Linked DNA regions of Homo sapiens: regions 1 and 3 are each linked to region 2. Evidence: fine-mapped expression QTL. A gene starts in region 2. Each other region holds a variant in brackets. All regions are shown on one strand. Distances are between the middles of the regions.

What was found. PIP is the estimated chance that this variant, and not a neighbour inherited with it, causes the effect.
Region 1: its variant is the best candidate, but not a certain one, in a credible set for the expression of APLP1 in sensory neurons (Schwartzentruber 2018, PIP 0.68).
Region 3: its variant is the best candidate, but not a certain one, in a credible set for the expression of APLP1 in esophagus muscle (GTEx, PIP 0.66).

What each region holds. Positions count from the first base shown.
Region 1 is chr19:35,587,490-35,597,989 of GRCh38, reverse strand. It overlaps LINC01766 (long intergenic non-protein coding RNA 1766), which reads right to left and starts at 95. Exons shown (of 3, transcript NR_110750.1): 1 at 33-95. RefSeq lists an enhancer at 1,199-1,338. The variant A/G (reference allele first, on the strand shown) is at 5,019.
Region 2 is chr19:35,860,895-35,870,857 of GRCh38, reverse strand. It overlaps APLP1 (amyloid beta precursor like protein 1), which reads right to left and starts at 2,284. Exons shown (of 17, transcript NM_001024807.3): 1 at 2,075-2,284; 2 at 1,048-1,191. The coding sequence starts at 2,221. KIRREL2 (kirre like nephrin family adhesion molecule 2) reads right to left here. Exons shown (of 15, transcript NM_199180.4): 8 at 9,822-9,949; 9 at 9,604-9,736; 10 at 9,217-9,317; 11 at 8,834-9,053; 12 at 8,261-8,365; 13 at 7,822-7,931; 14 at 6,145-6,210; 15 at 3,722-4,701. The coding sequence ends at 4,366. LOC107985317 (a long non-coding RNA gene) reads left to right here and starts at 1,501. Exons shown (of 4, transcript XR_001753932.2): 1 at 1,501-1,766; 2 at 2,728-2,983; 3 at 4,265-4,371; 4 at 7,857-7,943. RefSeq lists silencers at 2,044-2,113, 2,204-2,463 and an enhancer at 9,218-9,963.
Region 3 is chr19:35,846,219-35,851,218 of GRCh38, reverse strand. It overlaps NPHS1 (NPHS1 adhesion molecule, nephrin), which reads left to right. Exons shown (of 29, transcript NM_004646.4): 4 at 130-258; 5 at 774-855; 6 at 1,566-1,669; 7 at 1,856-1,983; 8 at 2,072-2,243; 9 at 2,425-2,582; 10 at 2,822-2,966; 11 at 3,054-3,178. Among named protein-coding and RNA genes, the nearest start is that of NPHS1, 3.8 kb to the left of the region's middle. RefSeq lists an enhancer at 1-69 and a silencer at 2,934-3,109. The variant C/T (reference allele first, on the strand shown) is at 2,736.

The sequences.
Region 1 (10,500 bases), 270 kb after region 2:
TTAAGGCAGGAACCTGTACCTCTTCCCCTCACCTGAGCTCTGGAATAAAGTCACCTTCTTTCTACCAGAACTTGCTCTTGTTAATTGGACTCTGCAAGCGTGGAGTGACTGGACCTGTGTTTGGGTATAAAACCTTCATTATAAATTCACTGTTCCCTTATAAAACTCTCACCCTGTAAAACTTCTTTGTCTTCTGTTTTTTTTTTTTTTTTTTTTTTTTTTTCAGAGACAGGGTCTTCTCTCCCAGGCTGTAGGAGTGCAAAGGCACAATCATAGCTCAGTGCAGCCTCAAACTCCTGGGCTCAAGTGATCCTCCTGCCTCAGCTTCCTGAGTGGCTGGGACTACAGGTGCACACCACCAGGCCCAGCTAACTAAAATTTTGTTTTGTTTTGTTTTTGTTTTGCTGGGTGTGGTGGCTGACGCCTGTAATCCCAATACTTTGGGAGGCCGAGGTGGGCGGATCACCTGAGGTCAGGAGTTTGAGGCCACCTTGGCTAACATAGTGAAACCCCGTCTCTACTAAAAATACAAAAATTAGCCGGGCGTGGTGGCACGCACCTGTAATCCCAGCTACTTGGGAGGCTGAGGCAGAACTCGGGAGGTGGAGGTTGAAGTGAGCCAAGATCCTGCCACTGCACTCCAGCCTGGGTGACACAGCGAGACTCTCTCAAAAAAAAAAAAAAAAAAAAAAAATTTTTTTCTTTTGGTAGAGATGGGGTTTTGCTACAATGTTGCCCATGCTGGTCTTGAATTCCTGGGCTCAGGTGATCCTCCCACCTCTGCCCCCCAAAGTAAAACTTCTGTTAGCTCTCTCACTGTTCCTTTTATAATATCCTTTACTTCGTCCCTATGAATCCTGCGGGGTCCTGCTGTAAACCTTTCCTGTTCGCCCATAAGCTCCCTGCCCCTTTAGCTCCTCTAAGACCTTATTTGACCACCTATTCACTCCTCTTGCTGGGACTATAGGCGCCCGCCACCACGCCCGGCTAATTTTTGTATTTGTAGTAGAGACAGGGTTTCAGTCTCTACTTCTTTGTCACCTTACAAAGTCCTGCCCTGTCTCCCTCTAACACCTCTCAACTTCTGAAACCAGCTTTCTGACTCTTTGAACTCCCTCTCCAACCACGTACAACAGCCTTCCTGTTCTAAACCCGTGCCCTTGTGACATATGTCTGTGTCCACTTATATCACCCCTGAGGTTCCTTTATGATACCCTTTCTGCTCTCATCATTTCCCCTCTACTCTAACACTCCTCCTCCTACTCCTGCCCTCCTGGAACATTCCCAGGAGGGCACCTAGGTCTGGCACTATGCTCTTCCTTGATCACCAACCACAGGGGATTACCATGGCGGCCAGGCAGGCCCCGCCTCCTAGCCTGTCTCTCTACTTCTACTGGCCAATTGGAGGTGGTATGTCATAGGGTGGGAACCAACACCTGGCTTCTGATTGGTTTGATGGGGTGACAGCTCCTTCTACTCTCTCAAGTGATTGGCCAATTGAGGAATCCCTGGTTCCACCTTCAAAACAGACCTATAAATAAGCCTCATTTCCTTGATCATCTTTGTTTAAAGATTCCTCCTGAGCATCTTGAGAGAAAAGCACTACTTGGGGCAAGAGTGATGTAGGCCTCGGAGTCTTGTGTTTCAGGAAAAACACAATGCATTTTCTCTGCTCTCATACCACAACAGTCAACACAGAAGAGTTCTTTGATCAAATGTGTGGGTTCCCCCCTTTTTCCCCACCCCCTCAAGCCCCTCCAACACCAAGCAAACAATCATTTCTTTTCTTCCTTCCTTTCCTTTCCTTTCTTTCCTTCATTCTTTCCCCCTTCCCTTCCCCTCCCCTCCCTTTCCCTTTCCCCTTCCCTTCCCCTTCCCCTTTCCCTTTCCCTTTCCCTTCCCTTCCCTCTTTTCTTCCTTTTCCTTCTCTTCTTTCTTTTCCTTCTTTCTTCTTGCTCTGTCTTCCAGGCTGGAGTGTGGTGATGTGATCTTGGCTCACTGCAACCTCCGCCTCCTGGGTTCAAGTGATTCTCCTGCCTCAGCCACCTGAGTAGCTGGGACTACAGGTGCGCACCACCATGCCTGGCTAATTTTTTGTATTTTTAGTAGAGACGGGGTTCTGCCATGTTGACTAGGCTGGTCTCGAACGCCTGACCTTAAGTGATCCGCCTGCCTTGGCCTCCTAAAGTTCTAGGATTACAGGCATTACGCCCGGCCTACTTCTATTTTTTAAGTTTTTAATTTTTTTATTTTTTGAGACAGAGTCTCACTCTGTTGTTCAGGCTGGAGTGCAATGGCGTGATCTCGGCTCACTGCAACCTCCGCCTCCTGCATTCAAGTGATTCTCCTGCCTCAGCCTCCCAAGTAGCTGGGATTACAGGCACCTGCCACTATGCCTGGCTAATTTTTGTATGCTTAGTAGAGACTGGGTTTCACCATGTTAGTGAGGCTGGTCTCGAACTCCTGACCTCAGGTGATCAGCCCATCTTGGCCTCCCAAAATGCTGGGATTGCAGGAGTGAGCCACCGCGCCTGGCCTACTTCTATTTTTTTTAAGACAAGGTTTTGTTCTGTTGCTAGTCTGGAGTGTAGTGGTGTGAACACGGCTCACTGCAGCCTTGACCTCCTGGGCTCAAACAACCTCCTGCCCCAAACTTCTGAGTAGCTGGGGCTACAGGTGCAAGCCACCATGCCAGGTTAATTTTGAAATTTTTTGCAGAGATGGGGTCTCACTATGTTGCCCAGGCTGATCTTGAACTCCTGGGCTCAAGTTATTTATGTATGTATTTATTTGAGACAGGGCCTCACTCTGTCACCCAGGCTGGAGTGCAGTGATGTGATGATGGCTCACTGCAGCCTCGACTTCCTGGGCTCAGGTTATCCTCCTGCCTCAGTCTCCCAAGTAGCTGGGACTATAGGCGTGTGCCACCACACCCAGCTAACTTCTTTGTATTTTTAGTAGAGACGGAGTTTCACCATGTTTTCCAGGCTGATCTCAAACTCCTGGGCTCAAGTGATCCACCCACCTCGGCTTCCCGAAGTGCTGATATTACAGGCATGAGCCTTTGAACCTGGCTATTTTTTTTTTTTGAGATGGAGTCTCCCTCTGTCGCCAGGCTGGAGTGCAGTGGTGCGATCTCGGCTCACTGCAACCTCTGACTCCCTGGTTCAAGCGATTCTCCTGCCTCAGCCTCCCTAGTAGCTGGGATTGCAGGCATCCGCCACCACGCCCAGCTAATTTTTGTATTTTTAGTAGAGACAGGGTTTCACCTTGTTGGCCACGATGGTCTCCTGACCTCGTGATCTGCCTGCCTTGGCCTCCCAAAGTGCTGGGATTACAGGTGTGAGCCAACGCGCCCGGCTCTGGCTATTTTTTTTTTAAGTGCATTATGAAAATATTTTATAACTTGTGTGTTTAGATCATGTGCCTTAAATATGATTATTGGTATGTTTTGCTTTAGGTCTACTATTATTTGTTTTTTATTTCCACTTTTCTGTGTTTTGTTCCTTGTTTTCCCTTTTCCTTCTTTCTTTTGGATTATTCAAATACTATTTTAGTACTCCATTTTAATTTATTTATTGTGATTTTCACTATATATCTTTGCAAGTTTTAAGTGATTGCTCTACGGATTATGGTAAACACACTTAAACATTCTATAGTCTACCTAGATTGAATATTTTGCAACTTCAAGTGGAATATGGAAAACTTCCACCATATTGGTCCCTTCATTGTCTCCCATGTATGCGTTAGCTTTCACATGCATTATAAAGACATGTATTGAAAATACATCCGTCCAGGGCTGTGGCTCACGCCTGTAATCCCAGCACTTTGAGAGGCTGAGGTAGGTGGATCACCTAAGGTCAGGAGTTCAAGACCAGCCTGGCCAACATGGTGAGACCCCGTCTCTACTAAAAATACAAAAATTAGCTGGGCATGGTGGTGGGCGCCTGTAATCCCAGCTACTAGGGAGACTGAGGCAGGAGAATCGCTTGAACCCAGGAGGTGGAAGTTGCAGTGAGCCAAGATCACACCACTGCACTCCAGCCTGGGTGACAGAGTGAGACTCTATCTCCAAAAAAAAAAAAAAAAGAAAAAAAAAAAACGAAAAGAAAAACGCCAGGCACGGTGGCTCATGCCTGTAATCCCAGCACTTTGGGAGGTTGAGGAGGGCAGATCCCGAGGTCAGGAGATCGAGCCCATCCTGGCTAACAAGGTGAAACCCCGTCTCTACTAAAAATACAAAAATTTAGCTGGGCGTGGTGGCGGGTGCCTGTAGTCCCGGCTACTCGGGAGGCTGAGACAGGAGAATGGCGTGAACCCGGGAGGCGGAGCTGGCAGTGAGCCGAGACCACACCACTGCACTCCAGCTTGGGTGACAGAGTGAGACTCCATCTCAAAAAAAAAAAAAAAAAAAAAAACCCTCCCAAAGTGCTGGGATTACAGGCGTGAGCCACCATGCCCAGCAGTCATTCCTTTCAATGGCAAAAACCGCAATTATTTTTGCATCAACTACACACACAGACACACACACACACACATATCTCATGTCACCTGCAGATACAGTTTTATTTCTTCCTTTCCAATCTAAATGCCTTTTTTTCTTTTTTGAGACAGAGTCTCACTCTATTCCTCAGGCTGGAGTGCAGTGTTGGTGTGATCATAGCTCACTGCAGTCTCAAAGTCCTGGGCTCAAGTGATCTCCCTGCCTCAGCCCCCTGAGCAGGTAGGACTACAGGCATGTGCCACCATGCTTGGCTAATTTTTTAATATTTTTTGTAGAGATGGGGTCATGCTGTGTTGCCTAGGCTGGTCTTGACATCCTAGTCTCAAGTGATCCTCCTGCCTCCCAAAGTGTTAGGATTACAGACGTCAGCCACTGCGCCGGGCCCTGTTTGCGTTTTTTTCTTGCAGTGACTAGAACTTCCAGCACTATGTCAAATAGGAGTGTCAAGAGCAGACATCCTTTCCTTGTTGTTGATCTTATAGGGAAAGTATTCCATCCTTCATCATTAAATATG[A/G]TATATATTTGGTGTGTTTAAATCTATTATTGTTATTACTATTATTATTATTATTATTATTTGAGACGGAGTTTTGCTCTTGTTGCCCAGGCTGGAGTGCAATGGCGCCATCTCGGCTCACTACAACCTCCGACTCCCGAGCTCTAAGCGATTCTCCTGCATCAGCCTCCCGAGTAGCTGGGATTACAGGTGACTGTCACCACGGCTGGCTAATTTTTATATTTTTAGTAGAGACGAGGTTTCACCATGTTGGCCGGGCTGGTCTCGAACTCCTGACCTCAATTGATTTACCTGCCTCAGCCTCCCAAAGTCCTGGGATTACAGGAGTGAGCCACCGCGCCTGGCCGTTATTAATATTTTTGATGTTTAAGTTGTACCACTCTGGGCCAGTGGGCGCTCCTTCAAGTTAGCTTCTATGTCGAAAATAAAAATGATTTGTTAAGAGAAAGGTAAGTGATTAACAAGTGACTCCAGCAGGTAAAAAGATTGAATTGCTACTAACGGTCGATGGGAGGCAGTGTTGTCCACCTAGTGCTTAAGAACACGGCTTTTGGTGGCAGATTTCCTGGTTCCCAATCCTGGCCCCTCAGTGAATTCGCTGTGAGACCTGCACTGTGTCTTTCCAGCTCCCTGTGCTTTATCCTCAGTCTGTAAGAATGCAGGCTATAGGGTTAGTGTGGAGACCAAAAGAATCAATACTCCGAAGCTGCTCATAACAGTGGCTTGTACTTGACTCCGAGAGTTGCTGCTTTCACCATCATAGTGAAGACAAAGTACTCAAAATCTGCTACACGAAAAAGATTACAGGCCCAGAAGATTTTGCAGGCATGTTCACTCCAACTTTTTTTTTTTTTTTTGGAGATGGAGTTTCGCTCTTGTCACCCAGGCTGCAGTGCAATGGCGTGATCTTGGCTTACTGCAACCTCCGCTTCCCGGGTTCAAGTGATTCTCCTGCCTCAGCCTCCCGAGCAGCTGGGATTACAGTTGTGTGCCACCATGCCCAGCTAATTTTTGTATTATTAGTAGAGATGGGGGTTTCACCATATTGGCCAGGCTGGTCTCGAACTCCTGACCTCAGGTGATCCACCCGCCTCAGCCTCCCAAAGTACTAGGATTACAGGCATGAGGCACCATGTCCGGCCCACTCCAATCTTTAAGAAGCAGCTAATTCCCATGACATAGAAATGTTTCCAGAACACAGAAACACATTGAATGCTTCTCAACCCATTCTGCATTGCCAGCACTGCCCCAATGCAAAGGACTGAGAACAGCCCCCAGATGAAAACTATGTAGGACCCAAATAAGGCATAAGCAAACCATATCCATCACATATTAAAAGAATAATAGAGGCCGGGCATGGTGGCTCACGCCTATAATCCCAGCACTTTGGGAGGCTGAGGCGGGCGGATCACGAGGTCAGGAGATCAAGACCATCTGGCTAACACGATGAAACCCCGTCTCTGCTAAAAATACAAAAAATTAGCCGGGTGTGGTGGTGGGCGCCTGTAGTCCCAGCTACTCGGGAGGCTGAGGCAGGAGAATGGCGTGAACCTGGGAGGCGGAGCTTACAGTGAGCCAAGATCGTGCCACTGCACTCCAGTCTGGGCGACAGAGCAAGACTCTGTCTCTAAAAAAAAAAAAAAAGAATAATAGATTGTGACCCAGTAAGGTTTTCCCAAGAGTATAAGAATGGTTCATTGTGAATAACTTTGTTAAAGGATTGAATTAAAATCTCGTATGATCATGTTAATAGATGCTGAAAAGTATTTAATATGATTCAACACAAATTTTTTTTGAGACAGGGTCTCGCTGTGTTGCCCAGGCTGGAGTACAAGGGTGTGATCATGGCTCACTGCTGCCTCTAACTCCTGGGTTCAAGTTATCCTCCCATCTCAGCCTCCTGAGTAGCTGAGAATACAGGTACCATGCCTAGCTAATTTTTTTTTCTTTTTTCAGTAGAGACGAGATCTAGCTATGTTGCCCAGGCTGGTCTCAAATTCCTGGCCTCAAATGACTCTCCTTCCTTGGCCTCCCAAAGTACTGGAATTACAGGCATGAGCCACTGTGCCTAGCCTCAATATAAAATTCTAATTTAAAAAATCTTGGCAAGCCAGGAATAGAAGAAAACATAACAAAATTGATGAAATTTTGGCTGGTCACGGTGGCTCATGCATGTAATTTCACCACTTTGAGAGGCTGAGGCAGGCAGATAATTTAAGGCCAGGGGTTCAAGACCAGCCTGGCCAACATAGAGAAATCCCATCTCTACTAAAAATACAAAAAATTAGCCCCGAGTGGTGGTGCGTGCCTGTGGTCCCAGCTACTATAGAGGCTGAGGCACTAGAATCGCTTGAACCTGGGAGGCGGAGATTGCAGTGAGCTGAGATTGTGCCGCTGCACTCCAACCTGGGTGACAGAGCCAGAGTTTGCTTCAGAAAAAAAAAAAAAAAAGATGAAATTTTTATCAGAAATCTACATCAACTGCCTGACTTAATAGTAAAACAATAGAACTAACCCATACAAGGATGGAAACAAGATTATGATGCTAATTCATATTTTGCTGAAAGGTTTAGCCCAGGAACTAAAAAAATACATATATAATGAGGTATTAAAATTGTTAAGAAATAATTCAAATTTAGCATAGACAATGTAAGTGTGTAAAATGATGAATTATTACACCAAGAAAGTTCAGTAAGTTTGCCACACAAGATATCAACATTGGAAACTCAATACCTTTCTTCTACCCCAATAATAATTTAGATTATGTAATGGAAAAAAGGATTGCTTATAATACATAAAATAAAGCTAAAGATGTACAAGTCCTATTTGATATATCATATTTATGAATAGGAAGGCTTATCATAAAGATGCTAAATCTCCCAAAACTGATAACTAAATTGATTGTAATGCAATCAAAGTCAGATAAGATTTTTTTTTTTTTGAGGTTGAGTCTCACTCCTTCGCCCAGGCTGGAGTGAAGTGGTGCAATCTCTGCTCACTGCAACCTCCACCCCCGGGTTCAAGAGATTATCCTGCCTCAGCCTCCCGAGTAGCTGGGATTACAGGCACGCACCACCACAGTGGCTAATTTTTGTATTTTTATAGAGACAGGGTTTCACTATGTTGGCCAGGCTGGTCTCGAACTCCTGGCCTCAGGTGATCCTCCCACCTCAGTCTCCCAAAGTGCTAGGATTACAGGTGTGAGCCACTGCACCCGGCCTTATTTTTTACATTTATTTATTTTGGAGACAAAGTCTAGCTGTGTCCCCCAGGCTGAAGTGCAGTAGTATCACTATGACTTACTGCAGCCTCAAAATCCTGGGCTAAAGTGATCCTCTCACCTCACCCTCCTGAGTAACTGAGACTACAGGCGTGTGCCACCACGCCTGGCTAATTTTGAAAAATTTTGTAGAAAAGAGTTATCTATCGACTTGCTGCCTAGGCTGGTCTCAAAGTCCTGGGCTCAAGCCATCCTCCTCTCTCAGCCTCCCAAAGCATTGAAATTACAGGCACGAGCCACTGTGCCTGGCCTCGTTTTGTGTTTACCTGGTGCTAAATACCAGTTGGATACCCGAGAGTGAAATTCAGGTTGGATGAAGTCTGGGAGCTGAAGTGGAGGAGGCTGGCTGGCTTTCCAAGGCCTGTAGCAGAAGGTGACACTTGGGTCTGCCTGCTGATGTTGACATGGACCATCCTAACCTGACATGGCTTTGCAGCTGAATGTGACAGGCCCAGCCTGGGCTGGATCTGGAGAGGGACAGGGATGGCTAACCCTCTAGATCTGCTAACATGACAGACAATTAGGCATCATCCTATCTGCAGGCATCCCCATAACCCAGAGCATTGTCCCACAAACACATGAGATCTGCCCAGACACCCAAGCCCACAGAGGAGACAAACTCAGCATCACAACAATTACAATTAAGGTGGACTAGGGCCTTTGTTGTTTCCTTCTATTATTATTTCCTATAGACCACCCAACAAGATGGATGTCTCTGTTGGGTATGAACTTGAAGCTGTAATCCCAGATGTGCAAGAAATAGAACTCTATTCTCCTGCATCTGCACTGGTTTGGGTGGATTGGGCTGTGGAAACAGGCCAAGCATGTCATTTGTCAACATGGTAGTCTATTTTCTGCTTGACCACATGAGGCAGTTGGGGGAAGGGAGGCTGTTCCTAGAATGGTTCAGGGACCCAGGCTAATGGGGGCTTTGCCACGTCTACAACATGTGGCCTTCTAAATCATCACATGGGTATCCCTTGCCCCGTTGGCCGGGGGAGGAGGAGTTTAGAGGAGTGTCCCAGGAGACATTGAAAAGCCAGGTTTGTTTGTGGTACATGTCAGTTCTGCTCACATTCCACAGGACCAAAGCACATTTCATGGCTGCAGAGGGGAACCTCTGAGACGTGGCCAGGCAATGTTCCCAGAACAAAGAGGCGATGGGCTCTGGGGGACAGTGAGCAGTCTCTTGCCCAGCAGCTCCATTGACTTTCTACTGAGAATCCCCATTCTCCATGGTGGTGGAAACTTAGTTCTGCTAAATATTGTGCTAAATATTCATCTGGTTCTGAACTTGGGGTTGTCCATGAAGCTTGGGCATCAGAGGCAGCCCCGGGGTGTCTGTGGCCCATGGTGTCAGTCTAGATCTCTGTTTTGATTCATGCACGATGGCTCCCTGCTTATCCCTAGTTTTCCTCTACAGTTCTGTCTCCACCTGGCACTTGGGATTCCTATGGAACCCACCTTCTTCTCACTAGGCTGGGCCATGGGGTATCCTCCTTGGCTGTCTGAGGTCATTTCTTTGTAAATGTCTACACCATGTAGCATATCTTCTTTGAGAACTTGGAGCCTCTCTAGGCCTTATCTGTGAGGAGGGATTATAGATAACAGCTGGGGTCTCTGACGCCCCTCTTCCTCAGATGCAGATTCCAGGAACCTTATGGATGTACTATTGTCTAATCTCTCTCTACATTCCCTTTTCCATGAATGGGGAACCAATGCCTTTCTGGAGGGGGGAGAGGTGGTCTTCATCAGCTATTCTGCCAAAGCTATTTGCATTTCTTGAGGACTTTCCATTCTTCTCCTAAGAGCTTGACATTTGGATGTCAGAAGCTGGAAGAGGTTTCTGTTTTCTTATTGCTGCTCTGAGACACTAGACATCTCCAATCCCAGCTCAAATGAGAAGACCCCTAGAGAATAAACATCAGTTCAGATTTCTAAATATCATCCCCACATTGGCAATTATGCCTGCTTTAGAGACAAAGGAACTATGCTCAAGAAAAGTATCTGTTCAGGGCTATACAGTTTTTCAGTGTCAGAGGTAAGTTTTTAACTGACATCTGCCTGAATTCTATGTCTGTGGGCTTCCCCATTGGGACATTCTGATTTTCACAGTCTAGGAAACAGCTCCAGGGAAACACAGATACTGACCACTGACCCAGAAAACAATCATGGGCATGTTGACACACACACATACACACA
Region 2 (9,963 bases):
GCCCCTGCCAGCCACCCCTCTCCAGTAGTCAGGTCCCTTTTCTCTTTCTTTCTCCCTCTTTCTTTCTTTCTTTGAGACGGAGATTTGCTCTTGTCGCCCAGGCTGGAGTGGAATGGTACAATCTCGGCTCACTGCAACCTCCTCCTCCCAGGTTCAAGCGATTCTCCTGTCTCAGCCTCCTGAGTAGCTGGGATTACAGGCACGCACCACCATGCCAGGCTAATTTTTGTATTTTTAGTAGAGACGGAGTTTCGCCGTGTTGGCCAGGCTGGTCTCGAACTTCTGACCTCAGGTGATCCGCCTGCCTCGGCCTCCCCAAGTGCTGCGATTACAGGCGTGAGCCACCGCGCCCGGCCAGGTCCGTTTTCAAGGCTCTAGTATTCATGAGGACATCGCTTCCCTAGGCCCTGCTTCTCCCTAGCACCAGCCTTAGATATCCAAGCTCCTTGTGCTCATTGGCCACGCCCACTAGCAGTTTTCCCTTAAAAGTCCCGTCATCTTTAAGCCCTATCTCTTTTCCTGTGCTGTTTCTTTCTGAAGGTCCCTCTAAGCCCACCTCTCTGGTCACCCCTCCCCGCAGTCAGATTCGTCTCCCCAAAGGTCTCACCCTCCTTTAGGCCCCGCCTTTTCCTCTATTCCGCCTCTCCAAAACTCTCCCTTCCCGTTATAAATTTGTCTTTTCATGGCCACGCCCCCCCAGCTCTCCGCGCTCTCATTGGGCTCCACCCCTTTCCCCATCTTGCTGGTCCTTAAGGTCTCTTTCTGTCTTAGCCCCGCCTATCCTTTCGCCACTCCCCCCTACACCTCTACTCTTTACAAAGACCACCAGATTCCTAAATTCCACTTCCTCTCTGGCTATCTCGCGGCTCTCCCCTTTTCCTGACTTAGTATCTCAAAACAGGTCCCCTGCCCCTAGCATAGTTGCGCCTCTTTATTGGCCACGCCCCCCAGCCTCCACGCCTTAGATCGCGCAGCACCCTGGACCACGCCTTTTTCAAGTCTAGCTTTCTATGGGCGGCCCCGCCTCTCCCGTTCGGCCCCGCCCACCTGTCTGCAGTACTCCAGCACGCGCTGCGGGTCCCGGAGACAGCGTCGAGAGCGCTGTGGGTCTGGTTCCCAGCGGCCGGTGCGCAGGTCCCGGTGAAGGGTTAGGCGCCCGCATAGTCCAGCCACCTGGGCCGACCCCGGGGCCTGGATGGAAGTGGAAAGGACAGTGAGGGCTCGGGGGGCGTTGGCATGAGGGTCCCCTGGTTCTTTGCTCCCTAGGACCGAGACCCCCAGCACCAGCCCCCTCCCCCAAGCACCGCACACCGCCTCCATGGAGGCACCGTTCCCTGGGAAACAGCTCCCGTAGGGCGGGGGCGCCCCAGCGCTCCCGTTGCTATGGCGACCTGGGTCCCCCGGGATTCTTTCTGCCTTGTTGCCGCGGAGACAGACTCCGCCCCCACCCCAGCGCAGCCGCTCTGGAGCCCGAAGGGGTTAAACCTGAATCGCGGAGGAGGAGGCCAGAACCCAGGAGTTCTGGCCCCTCCTCCCTCCATCCCTTGCTCAGGCTCCCGTTGCAGGATGCAAAGCTGACAAGGCCTGGCTTCAGGGGCCTACAGTCCTGGACACCAGGTCCTTGAGGACTGGAGAGCTACATCTGGTTGGGGTGGGTGGTGACTGAAGGACTGGACTCCTGGGTCCTGGGAGGCTGCAAGGGCCTCCATATGGGTCCAGAGAATACAAGGGGTCTGGATTATTGGATCTAAATGCCTCGCTGCTTGGTGGGTCCTATGTCCAGGCGGGAGGGGGTTGGGGCCGAGTCACCTGGGTCTGGAGAGGGGGCTGGACTTCTGGGACCAGGGGCTCTGAATAGACCAGTTCCTATGCTCGAGATGGGAGGGGGCTGGGACGTCGCATGATGGGGGAGCTGGGGCCTGGAACCCTGGGTTCATAAATGTGATTGGGGGCGCCTGGGGGCTGACCACCTGGCTGGAAAGACCGCGCTTTCTGCCCTGGACATGTCCGCGCCGGCGTCCAGAGACCCGGTCCCGCCCCTTCCCCCATCCCCCAGGACCCGGCCCGGCCTCACCTCGGCCGCGCCGGGGCTCCCACCGGCCAGGCTCCCGATGGCGGGCTGCGCGCGCAGAAGCAGCAGCAATAGTGGCAGCAGCAGCGGCAGCGGCGGCTGGCCCGGGCGGCGACTTAGACCGCGAGCAGCGGGGCTGGCGGGCCCCATGTCCCGGCCCTTGCGCCCTCACGTCCCCTGCACTCCCGCCCGGCCCGGCCCCAGCGGTGACAGGAGCTCCCAGCGCCACCGCCGCCACCTCCTCCTCCCGCCGCCCCCGGGCTGCGCCGGCGCCGCCAGCCCCGCCCCGCGCCGGCCCCGCCTTCCTGGTCAGGACAATAGCGTGGCGGCTTCGCGCAGAGTGGAGCAGCTCGGGAACCCCGGGCGGGAGCCTGCGCCAGGCCCCCGCCCCTCGAGATTCCAGGCGTCCCGCCCCATGAAGGGCCCAGCCAGGAGTCCGGCTATGGGCTCCGCCCGTTGTGGATTTTGAGTCCTCCCGCAGGACTCTCACCCTCTTTAGACCCAGACACTCACAGTTTTGTCCTTTTCCAAGGATGCAAGCATCAGAGACCCCCATCCCCTAGTACATTCCTCTGTTGAGGGCTCAGGAATACAGGCCTCCAAAATGTCCCCAGTCAAGAAGGCAGCAGTTGAGACCTAGTCCCTTCCTCTTTCAGATCCAGAAGTCTGGGCACCTTCTCTCTCAGGACCAGAGACCAAGCCCCCAGCCCATTCTCCTTCAGACCCAGGAGTTCACTCTTCTTGCTCTGCTTCCCAAGGGTCCCAGGGGCCTGGACCTTTAACTCCTAGCTCAAGGATCCATGAACCAAAGCCCCCAGGACCTTTCTTTAAGGATCATCCAAGCAGGCACCAGCACCATGCCCACTGTGGATGCAGCACCTCAGGATTAGGGTCTGGATCTCCACGCTTGCTGTAAGGACCAGGGGATTGCCATTTTCCTACCCATAGTCTCCCCTTCCCTGCTCCACTTCAGGGCTCACTTGTTTGTCTCCTCTAATGAGAGTTAGAATTCAGTCTTCCCCAGGACCCCTGGGGCAGCCCTGTCACTTGTGTGCAACTGTGTGGACATCTATGCGTGTGTCTGTGCATACATGCCTATGTGTGTGTCTTTTCTGTTTGCAACTCATGTGTGTGTGTGCGTGTGTGTGTGTGTGTGTGTGTGTGTGAAGATGTATATTAAAAGAGCCCATGGCTGGGCACAGTGGCTCATGCCTGTAATCCCAGCACATTGGGAGGCCTAGGTGGGCGGATCACTTGAGGTCAGGAGTTTGAGACCAGCCTGGCCAACATGGTGAAACCCTGTCTACAAACAAATACAAAAATTAGCTGGGTGTGGTGGCATGCACCTGTAGTCCCAGCTACTTGGGAGGCTGAGGTGGAAGGATGGCTTGAGCCCAGGATGCAGAGGTAGCAGTGGGCTGAGATCATGCCACTGCACTCCAATGTGGGCCATAGAGCCAGATCTTGTCTCAAGAAAAAAAAAAAAAGAGCCTAGAGTGCTTTGCAGGTAGCAAGAGGCTGAGAGGTGGCTCACAGTTTTACTCCTACAGCCACCTCATAGGCTAGGGTAGAGGAGGGACCTTGGGACAGGTCTAAGGGACCCCTTCCTTGGTGGAGAGTGATAATGCCAGTAGACTCCCTAAGACACACTTGCCTCTTTGACTTTTTTTTATTATTAAACATAAATATTTTTATCCCAATATTTTGCCCCAACAGTGGTAATTCTCACTGTATCCCCACTCCTTGGGTCCAAGTCTTTCTGAGTCTTTAAGGAAAGTAAAATCAAGATGGTGGCCATCTTGGGTTCCTAGGGAGTATATGGCCATCTTGGCTGCATTTCCATTGGCCGAGCAAAGTTCCCCTCAGGGAGAGCCAGGGTGGGGCCTGGTATGCTCTTCATCTTCATCTATCCTATGCTACCTTTCCTCTCAATGCAGATGGTCATCTTGAAATATCTTCTTTCAGTGGCTAGAAACAACTTCCATCCCGGCCCCAAACTCCCAACACCCACTGCCCTGTCCCCATCTCTCCTCAAAGGGCCTACCTGCCATCTTGAATCTCTTTTACACCGGGGAATAGGTGGGCATATTGGGTGGCCATGTTGCTCCCACTTGGGGCATCTCCTTTGGCTGAGCTGACTGTATACAAATGCTCCTGACAAATGTAATGATCTTTCCCTCCCCTTGTGTTCAGTTTTGGAGGAGTAAGGTCGCCAACTTGTCCTGGCTCCTCAGAAATCAGAACAATCCATTATGGCAAGTTGGAGATCCCAGGACTCTTCCATTGGAAAGATGTCACACGTGAGTCTGGAGACGCGGGTGGCTAGGTGTGGGGAAGGCAGCATATGGGAAGGGGGGAGTCCCGGGGGCCAGATCTGGGGGCCCAAAGGATGTGGGTTTGATGTAGCTGGTGAAAGCTCGAGGGTGGGGTGTGGTGAGATAGCCTGCCCTGGCTCTGTAAAGTCTGCAGGGGGGGACCATGCCCAGGTGTGGGTTGAAGTCATAGAAGGTAGGGGTCCCTGGGGGCCCAAGGGGGGAGGGTGGTGGCAGGAAGAGACCTCCTCCAGGGGCTTCGCCAAGGCTCAGGCTCACACTGACTCCTCGGACCTTGTAGTAACCGTTGGTTGGGTCCTGAGGGGACAAATGGGACTCAGTAAAGTCTGTGAGCGTGCAGGGGGGATGAGGGTCACTGATGGAGAGACACACTGAAATAGACCAGACCTTGAGAGAGACAAAAAGAGACAGGAGTGGGCAGAGACACAGAGACACACATGGACTGGGAGAGAGAGAAAGTGAGACAGAGGAACAGTGATAAGAGGCAAATGGATAGGACATAGGCAGAGAAAGGTAGAGACGGAGGGATATAGGCCTGCTGAGGGGTGTCGGTGTGGAAGGTGCAGAGGGAACAGGAGAGAGACACTCACCTGCCCAACAGCCTCTAGGCTTTGATTCAGTGTCACACCCTGTGTTGCTGCTACAAGGCATGTCACTAGGATAGAACTGGACCCTGTCCTCACAGAATCCCACACCAAAGGAAAAATGACAGATCATGAGACAGTACCCAGAGGGGTCAGGGCTGTGCCTGGGAAAGGCATAGGCAATGACAGGGGCTGTGATGGTAGAGCCCTCAGCATAGTGGGTGGGATAAGGAAGCCCAGATCAGAGTGGTCATGGCTGTGATGGGTGGAACACAGGCAAAATGATCGAGCTGTCATGACGGAAGCATGGGCTTCCTAGAACAAGAAATGTCTGAGCTGAGACTGGAGGACTAAAGGAAGGAATTAGGTAGACATGGGAAGGAAGGTAGGAGTGTTTCAGGCCAAGAGAATGGCATGTCGGCTGGGCACAGTGGCTCACGCCTGTAATCCCAGCACTTTGGGAGGCTGGGGCGAGCGGATCACTTGAGGTCAGGAGTTCCAGATCAGCCTGGCCAACATGGTGAAACTCCATCTCTACTAAAAATACAAGAAAAATTAGCCAGCTATTAGGGAGCCTGAGGCAGGAGAATGGCTTGAACCCAGGAGGCAGAGGTTGCAGTGAGCTGAGATTGCACCACTGCACTCCAGCCTGGGCAACAGAATGAGACTCCGTCTCAAAAAAAAAAAAAAAAAAAAGAAGAGAGAGAATGGCATGTGCTAGGTACGCAGGAGAGAGAGAGAGAGAGAAGTGCTCTGGCCTGGGGATGGCCTGGAGTCAATGTGGCTGTCCTGAGGTAGGACCCCAGAGGAAGAACCAGTCTGGGGAGATGTGGGGCCAGTGTAGGACCTGGTGGCTGAAAGGGGGCTTGACCGTGATGAGGAGAGCACAGGCAGGGTGAGCCCTGGTCTGGGGCTCCAGATGGAGGCTAGGGCTGGGACAGATGTGTGGGAAGAGTCTGCAGACAGGCAAACTGAGGCTGGGAGCTGAGTGAGATGGCCCAGGGGGCAGGAGGAGTGGGGTGGGGAGCTGAGTCCCAACTCTGAGGACAACAGAAGGAAAAAGGAGGGGACAGGCGTGGGAGAGAGACGGAAACACAATGAAGGGAGCCCCGCCTCTCCCAACAGTGAAGGGAGCCCCACCCCTCTCAACACTCACCTTGGTCTCCAGAGTCCCTTCCTCCTCCAGAACCAGATCACTGTGGTCAGTGTGCACAATGGGGCCCTGGGGTAGGGAACTTAGTGAGAGGGAATAGTCAGAGGATCCCCCCGCCCCAATGCCAGACCCCAAGGACCTTCAGCCAGCCAGTGGAGGCCAGGCAGGAGGGAGTAAGAGCACCCAAGAGCTGGGGACTGCACTCAGGACAATAAAAGGGCTGTAAGAAGCCAGCACAGTGGCTCATGCATGTAATCCCAGCACTTTGGGAGGCCGCAGCAGGAGTATCACTTGAGGCCAGAAGTTTGAGACCAGCCTGGCTAACATGCCGAAACTCTGTCTCTACTAAAAATGCAAAAAATAGGCAGGCATGGTGGCAGGCACCTGTAATTTCAGCTACTCAGGAGGCTAAGGAACGAGAATCACTTGAACTGGGAGGTGGAGGGTGCAGTGAGTCTGGATTGCACCACTGCATTCCAGCTTGGACGACAGAGCAAGACTCTATCTCAAAAACAACAACAACAACAACAACAACAACAAAAACGGGCTGTGGGGACATACTGGGCCTAGGGAATAATTGGGTCAGGGGCATGGACTTGGGTGACATTTGGGTGTGGGGTCACTGTTAAGACTAGAGCCCTTGGCCGGGCGCGGTGGCTCACGCCTGTAATCCCAGCACTTTGGGAGGCCGAGACGAGCGGATCACGAGGTCAGGAGATCCAGACCATCCTGGCTAACACGGTATACACCTCGTCTCTACTAAAAATACAAAAAAATTAGCTGGACATGGTGGCGGGTGCCTGTAGTCCCAGCTACTCTGGAGGCTGAGGCAGGAGAATGGTGTGAACCCGGGAGGTGGAGCTTGCAGTGAGTCGAGTTCGCGCCACTGCACTCCAGCCTGGGCTACAGACCAAGACTCCGTCTCAAAAAAAAGAAAGAAAGAAAAAAAAAGACTTGAGCCCTCAGGCCGGGCGTGGAGGCTCATGCCTGTAATCCTAGCACTTTGGGAGGTCGAGGCGGGTGGATCACCTGAGGTCAGGAGTTTGAGACCAGCCTGGCCAACATGGTGAAACCCAATCTCTACTAAAAATACAAAATCAGTCAGGCGTGGTGGTGGGCGCCTGTAATCGCAGCTACTCAGGAGGCTGAGGCAAGAGAATCACTTGAACCAGGGAGGCAGAGGTTGCAGTGAGCCGAGATCGCAGCACTGTACTCCAGCCTGGGTGACAGAGTGAAATTCTGCCAAAAAAAAAAAGACTAGAGCCCTCCTACATAAAAAAAAAAAAAAAAAATGGAGACAGGGTCTTGCTCTGTAGCCCAGGCTGGAGTGCATGGTGCAATCATAGCTCACTGCAGCCTTTACCTCCTGTGCTCAAGGGATCCTCCCACCTCAGTGTCCTGAGTAGCTGGGACTATAGGTGTATGCCACCATACCCGGTTCATTTTTTATTTTATTTTAGTTTGTATTTTTGTAGAGATGGGGTCCTGCTATGCTGTCCAGGCTGGCTTTGAATTCCTGGCCTTAAGTGATCCTTGTGTCTCCACCTCCCAAAGTGGTATTACCAACGTCAGGCACCATGCCTGGCCTTAGAGTCCTATTTGAATTTGGGGACCCTCTTGGGACTGGGCTATTATTTAGGTCTGGAGGCACAGTCAGGTCTGGGGACCCTGGCATCCTACCCGGTCCTCGCGGCTGCCTGTCTCCTCTTCTTCAGGACCTCGTGAACTGGAGCCGTCGCTGCTGCCAGGGATTCGCATCAGGTTCTTTTGCTCGGAGAAAGAGGCTGAGGCTGACAAACAGCGACCGGTGGAGTTAAGCGATGGGCGGGGTCACAATGTGTGCAGACCAATAAGCGGGAAGAGAGAGGACTGGGAACCAATGAGGCTGATTGGGTAGGGCTGTTGGAAACCAATAAGAATCATTCCCACCGAGGAGTGTGACCCTGGGAAGGCCTAGTTAGGGCTTAAGGAGGGAACCAGAACGTGAAGGAGAGCTAAGCCCTGTGCAGAGCTGGAAATGGGACTGGAGCCAAGGCCCAAGGCCAGGTCAGGTCACTGGGCAGGCAGGGCGCGTGTGGGGCTGGGGCCTCGGGAGCCGGGGCGGGGCTCAGGCACTAACCCTTGCTGTGGCGCCAGCAGCAGAGGGCCACCCCAGTGATGACCATAAGGAGAGTTGTGGTGGCAGCGGCCACTCCGGCCACTATCCGCACAGTGGGCAGCAAGTCTGCAGGGAGCAGAGGGGACATCCTGAGAAGGCTGAGGGGGAACCAGGAAGCGGGGGCTCAGGGATTGAGTTTGGGATTCCTGGGTTCAAAAGGTCGCACATTTGAAGATTCAAAGGCCCTTGAATTTGGGGTTCCCCAAGTTTGAGAGTGAGTTTAAACTCCCTGGCTTTAGGGAGTCTTAGAATTTGAGGGGTCCTTTACTTTGCAATTTGCTTTGCAATCATTGGAGTTTCCCTTTTTGGGGCCCCTAGGTGTGAGGAGTCTCTCAGTTTAGGATTCAGAATGTGAAGGCATTTGTGGTTGAGGGGTGTCTTGGGAATCAATGAGCCCACAGTTTTGAGACTCCCGAGGTTTGGAGGTCTCCTCTGCATTTGAGGGTATGAGGTTTTGCAGCCCTCGGCTGGGGGATCCCTGCGTTTGTGGGGTTTAGACTCTCCAGATTTGGGGTCTTCGGGCTGGGGTCTCACCTCTACGGCCCAGGCTGGCCTGGGCACCTCCCTCGCCCAGCCGGTTCCGGGCACTGCAGTTAAAGCTCCTGCTAAAGTCAGACTCCTGGGTCCCCGAAATGTGTAGCACAGAGATCAGGCCCGGACCCAGTCCCCCGCGGCTCTCTGGGGCAGGGAATGTCTCCACCAGGAACCGGCCCTGCGACCCCGCCTCCAGGAAGCCCTCATCCCAAGACCAGACCTGGGGGCACAAAAGAGGGAGGACACGGAGGAGACTGAGGAGGGGAGGAAGAAGCAGGAGGGATGTCTGGGAAGTCAGAAATGGTCACAGTAGTTTCGGGGGGCCAGGTGGGAGGTCAGGGATCACGGCTGGATGGGTCACGGGAGGAGTGACATTTCCTTACCACGGCATCTGGGGCGGGAGAGGCGAAAACCAGACACTGGAGGCGAGCAGGGCCCCTCAGGAAGGCAGGCGCAGAGTGCAGGGCGGTCACTACTGGGGGAGCTGGGATGGAGACTGTAGGTCACTCAGAGGAGAGGTCTTGCCCTCCCCAAAGGCTGTAACAAAGCCGGGTCTGTCCAGCGCACTCTCCGCTAACCTCAATCAATCAGGCCACGCCGCCTCCAAACTCCGATTCTCCTAAAAGCCTCGCCTTCAATAGGTCCGGTCTCCAGCCCCCGCTGGGTGTAAAGCTCCTTCCAGGCCACTCCCACTGCATTAGCCCTTGCCCCCTCTGTCCGCTCCCTATCCCAGGACGGGCCAGGTCCCCTAGGAAGCCCCGCCTTCTCACCGTTCACAGTCAGCCGAGCCTCCGCGGCGCCGCCCCGCAGGCCCGATAGCCCAGCCTCAGCTCTGCACACATAGTCGCCTGCGTCCTCGGGCCCCACCGACGGAAGACGCAGTGTGGCTCCAGAGCCCAGCACCTGCGACAGGGAAGGGGCGTCAGAAGCCGGATTTGTAAGGAAGCCTGGTCCCCCTCCAGCCACCGCCTCAGATTTAGGGCTGTACCTGCGCGCCACCGCGGCGGGTCCAGGTTACCCGTGGAAGCGGGTTCCCGCGCCAGGCGCAGCTGAAGGAAGCGTCTTCCCCCACGTCCACGGACACGGGCTCCGGCTTTGCCTGCAGAATCGGCCCAACTGGACGAAAGAGA
Region 3 (5,000 bases), 17 kb after region 2:
GCCCTCCCCTACCCCGCAACCCGGAAGTCCAAGCCCCCAGCCTCTCCTCTCCCAGACTCTGGGTACCGAACTCCAATCTTCAAGTCCTTCTCAGTGCTGGAAGCTTACCCCAGACCCTTCTCTCACCAGTTCCTCCCAAGCTGCTCCTGCTGACCCCAGAGGCAGGCACCATGGTCACCTGGGTAGCTGGGCAGGAGTACGTGGTCAACTGTGTGTCTGGGGACGCGAAGCCAGCACCTGACATCACCATTCTCCTGAGTGAGTGTGGGTGAACTGGGTGGCAGGGGGCAGCATGAAGCCTCTGGAGTGGGAAGGGTGTGTGTTCCTGACCAGTACCCTTCTAAGGGCCCCAGAAAAGATGTCATCCCTGGGATGGGGACCCAGGAGAAGGTGTGGGGAGATGCTGAGGCCAGTGTGGGACCCAGTGGATGCGAGGGCACATCGAGGGCGGCAGCAACCAGCACAAGGCTGAGGCCCAGATAGAAATATGGGCAGTAGCGCTGGTGCAGACATGAGAAGCTGAGGGATAGGGTGCATGGTACAACCCAGCAAGGAGTTGAGAAGAGCGGGGAGGCCCAGGACCCAGCACTGAAGACTGCGGCATTCAGGCAGTCCAGAAAGTCGGGAGGGGATGCAGCTCTGCCCCAGGCCCTTTTCCTCTAGAACGAGGAGGGAGGGGGCATCGCACCCACCCTGAGGACTTCCAGGCCATGCTCCCCAGAATCTATCTTGCGGGGAGCCTGGAACCCCTCTAGCCCTCTTGCTGCCCCAAGGTGGACAGACAATATCTGACATCTCTGCAAACGTGAACGAGGGCTCCCAGCAGAAACTCTTCACTGTGGAGGCCACAGCCAGGTGTGGAAACTGAAACAACCCCCCAACCTTGACCCCTAATTTTCCCCATGGGAACCCCAGACCCCAGGGATGCAAGCATGAAGCTTGGGCTAGGTATGAACATCTGGGACCCAATTCTTCATCCTGACTCTCAAAGCTTCTTCATGGGGAACAGAGGTGGTGGCTCATGCCTGTAATCCCAGCACTTTGGGAGGCTGAGGTGGGCGGATCACCTGAGGTCAGGAGTTCAAGATCAGCTGGGTCAACATGGTGAAACCCTGTTTTCACTAAAAATACAAAAATTAGCCGGGTGTGGTGGCGCATGCCTGTACTCCCAGCTCCTCAGGGGGCTGAGGCAGGAGAATCACTTGAACCCAAGAAGTGGAGGTTGCAGTGAGCTGAGATTGTACCACTGCACTCCAGCCTGGGTGATAGAGCCAGATTCTGTCTCAAAAGACAAACAAACAAATAAACAAACAAAAAAACTTCATGGGAACCTCAGTTCTAGAGTCCCAAGCACTAAAGTTTTGGTCAGATGTGGGGCTCTCTAGGCTCCAATTCTCACTGTTCACCCCCAAAATCTCTCCCATGGAACCCTGGATCCCAGAGGAGATCAGCATGGGGACTTAGACCAGGTGTGGGGACCAGAGGTGACATCCCCACCTCTTCTCCCTGACTCCCCAAATTTCAGATGATGACTCTGACTCTATAACCCTGACTTCTCATCCCAGGGTGACACCCCGGAGCTCAGATAATAGGCAGTTGCTGGTCTGTGAGGCGTCTAGCCCAGCACTGGAGGCCCCCATCAAGGCCTCATTCACCGTGAATGTTCTGTGTAAGTGGAGAACTGGGCCAACTAGGGCGCTGAGGATGGGGAGCAGGCACTGGGGGGTGTGGGGGGATCACAGGGATTATGGAAATTCAGGCACTCAGAGAAACATGGGGGTTCAAAGGCAGGTTGTGGGGCCTGGAAAGAGTGGATGGGCTACTCCAGGCCCACTGAGTGACTGATATCCCCCAGTCCCTCCAGGACCCCCTGTCATCGAGTGGCCAGGCCTGGATGAGGGGCACGTGCGGGCAGGACAGAGCTTGGAGCTGCCGTGCGTGGCCCGAGGGGGTAATCCCTTAGCCACACTGCAGTGGCTGAAGGTGAGGGCAAACGCGGGCATGGGGAATGGGGGGACAGTGGGGTCTGGGAGCCAGTCCTGAGCTGGCCCAGGCCTGTCCCTGTCTCCAGAATGGCCAGCCGGTGTCCACAGCGTGGGGCACAGAGCACACCCAGGCGGTGGCCCGCAGTGTGCTGGTGATGACCGTGAGGCCAGAAGACCATGGAGCGCAGCTCAGCTGCGAGGCCCACAACAGCGTGTCTGCAGGGACCCAGGAGCACGGCATCACACTGCAGGTCACCTGTGAGTCCTGGTGCCAGCTGCCCCCCTGTCGGTCTGTGCCTCAGAGAACCATCTGTGTGTGCCCCCAAATTATGCCTACTGGATGCCAAAGATCTCAGCATCTGTCTCCAGTCCTGTTCTGTCTGGGCTGGTCTGTGAGAAATCCAGCCCAGCTTAGTGTCTTCCTTCTCTGTCCCTGCAGTTCCCCCTAGTGCCATTATTATCTTGGGATCTGCATCCCAGACTGAGAACAAGAACGTGACACTCTCCTGTGTCAGCAAGTCCAGTCGCCCGCGGGTTCTGCTACGATGGTGGCTGGGCTGGCGGCAGCTGCTGCCCATGGAGGAGACAGTCATGGATGTGAGGCGGGGGCCAGGCTCCTGGGTCTGAGCATGGAGGGGGCTGAGGGCATGACTCGTGGATAGGGAAGGGGTGGGTCCAGCAGCCTGGGGGGCTTTCTCCTTGAGGACCATGGGTCCAACAGAGGGGGAGGTAGAGATGTCTCCTGTGTCC[C/T]TGCTGGGGACTGGGATGGACTCAGGCCTCTAGCACGATGGATAGGGGTGCTGCAGTCCCCACGTCTGAAGCTCACTCCCTGCCAGGGACTGCATGGCGGTCACATCTCCATGTCCAACCTGACATTCCTGGCGCGGCGGGAGGACAACGGTCTGACCCTCACATGTGAGGCCTTCAGTGAAGCCTTCACCAAGGAGACCTTCAAGAAGTCGCTCATCCTGAACGTAAAATGTGAGCCCCTGCCCTGGCCCAGCAATGCCCCCAAGCCTCAGGACCCAGCACAGAGAAAAAGTCATTCTTCCTTCCTCTCCCCGCCAGATCCCGCCCAGAAACTGTGGATTGAGGGTCCCCCAGAGGGCCAGAAGCTCCGGGCTGGGACCCGGGTGAGGCTGGTGTGTTTGGCTATCGGGGGCAACCCAGAGCCCTCCCTCATGTGGTACAAGGTTGGTGCCACGCCAGGGCTATGGGGGTGGCCAGGAATGTGGGGGAAGGACCAGGCCCCTTCTCTCCTTCAGAATCTTGGGCAATCTTGGAAAAAGATTAAATTTCTTGAAAAGTACTAAAGATTCTGAGGTTTGGCAGGGAATCAGGAAAGACACAAATGCTATGAGAATTAAATGGAATCCTAGGAAAATTCTGGGGAAACAGTGAGAATTTTAGGATAAAAATTGGAATTCTGAATCAAGATTAGGCATTCTAGAGAAAAGGTAATTTCATTAAAATTAAAGAAAATTCTAGTGAAAACCCTCAGAATTCAGGTGAAATGTCAGGAATTTTAGGGAAAGACTTGAATCCCAGAAAAAAAAAAAAAACAATGCTGTAAAATTTGGCTGGGCACAGTGGCTCACGCCTGTAATCCAAGCACTTTAGGAGGCCGAGGTAGACGGATCACCTGAAGTCGGGAGTTAGAGACCAGCCTGACCAACATGGAGAAACCCTGTCTCTACTAAAAATACAAAAAATTAGCTGGGCATGGTGGCGGGGGCCTGTAATCCCAGCTACTGGAGAGGCTGAGGCTGGAGAATTGCTTGAATCCGGGAGGCCCAGGTTGTGGTGAGCCGAGGTTGTGCCACTGCACTCCAGTCTGGGCAACGAGACCGAAACTCCGTCTCAAAAAAAAAAAAAAAAAAAAAAAAAAAGGCTGGGCACAGTGGCTCACGCCTGTAATCCCAGCACTTTGGGAGGCTGAGGCGGGCGGATCACGAGGTGAGGAGATCGAGACCATCCTGGCTAACACGGTGAAACTCCGTCTCTACTAAAAATACAAAAAATTAGCCAGGCGTGGTGGCAGGTGCCTGTAGTCCCAGCTACTCGGGAGGCTGAGGCAGGAGAATGGCGTGAACCCGGGAGGCGGAGCTTGCAGTGAGCCGAGATCGTGCCACTGCACTCCAGCCTGGGTGACAGAGGGAGACTCCGTCTCAAAAAAAAAGAAAAGAAAAGAAAAGAAAATTTGGAGAAAAGCTAGTAATTCCACAGACTATCGGAAATTCATTAGTATTAAACTGAACTCTTGGGATTTGGAGGCAAGAAAATGAAATTTCATTAAAATGAAAGAGAAGCCTAATAGAATTCTAGGAGAATCCTGGGAATTAGGGAGCTAGTTGAAAACTTTGGGGGGAAGACTAGAAATTATAGAAATGACAATGGAATTTTATTTTAATTGGATGGAATTCTGGGGAAGTGCTGAGAATCTGGGCAATACAAAGGAATCTGTTAAAAGACTGGGATCATAAGATATTATAATATCGGGAAAGATTCAGAAATCTATGGAAAGTTTAATTTGTGCAGCAGCAATAATAAAAAAAGGAAGTAATCTATGGAAAGACACTGGAATTAAGGAAAATTTCAAAGGAAATCTTTGGGGACAGCAGGAATTTTAAGAAAAGGAACTGAGGAACTCTGGGAAAGGCCTGGGAATTTCAAGGGAGTTTCCTGCAGGTGGTGTTGGGTAAACACAGCAGAAATAGATTTTGAGGAGTGCGCTGAGAGCCTGCAGGTGGCTGCAGAGGCAGAGCAGGAGTTGGGTGTGGGACAGAAGGCGGATTCAGATCCCCAAAACTGCCATGCACAGGGACTCGGGGAGGCGGGAGAGACTCCAGGGAGGGGGTCACTCAGTTCCACTCCCCACTGCTTTGCCCTAGGGGGGTGGTGCTGATGAGAGTGCTTCTCCTTATCAGAAAAAGGCTTTGTTTGGGCTGGCGGCACCAACCCAGTGGGCAGGGTAGGGGGGTTGGGGGTTGGTGGAAGCGGCAGGGCTGCCTGCGA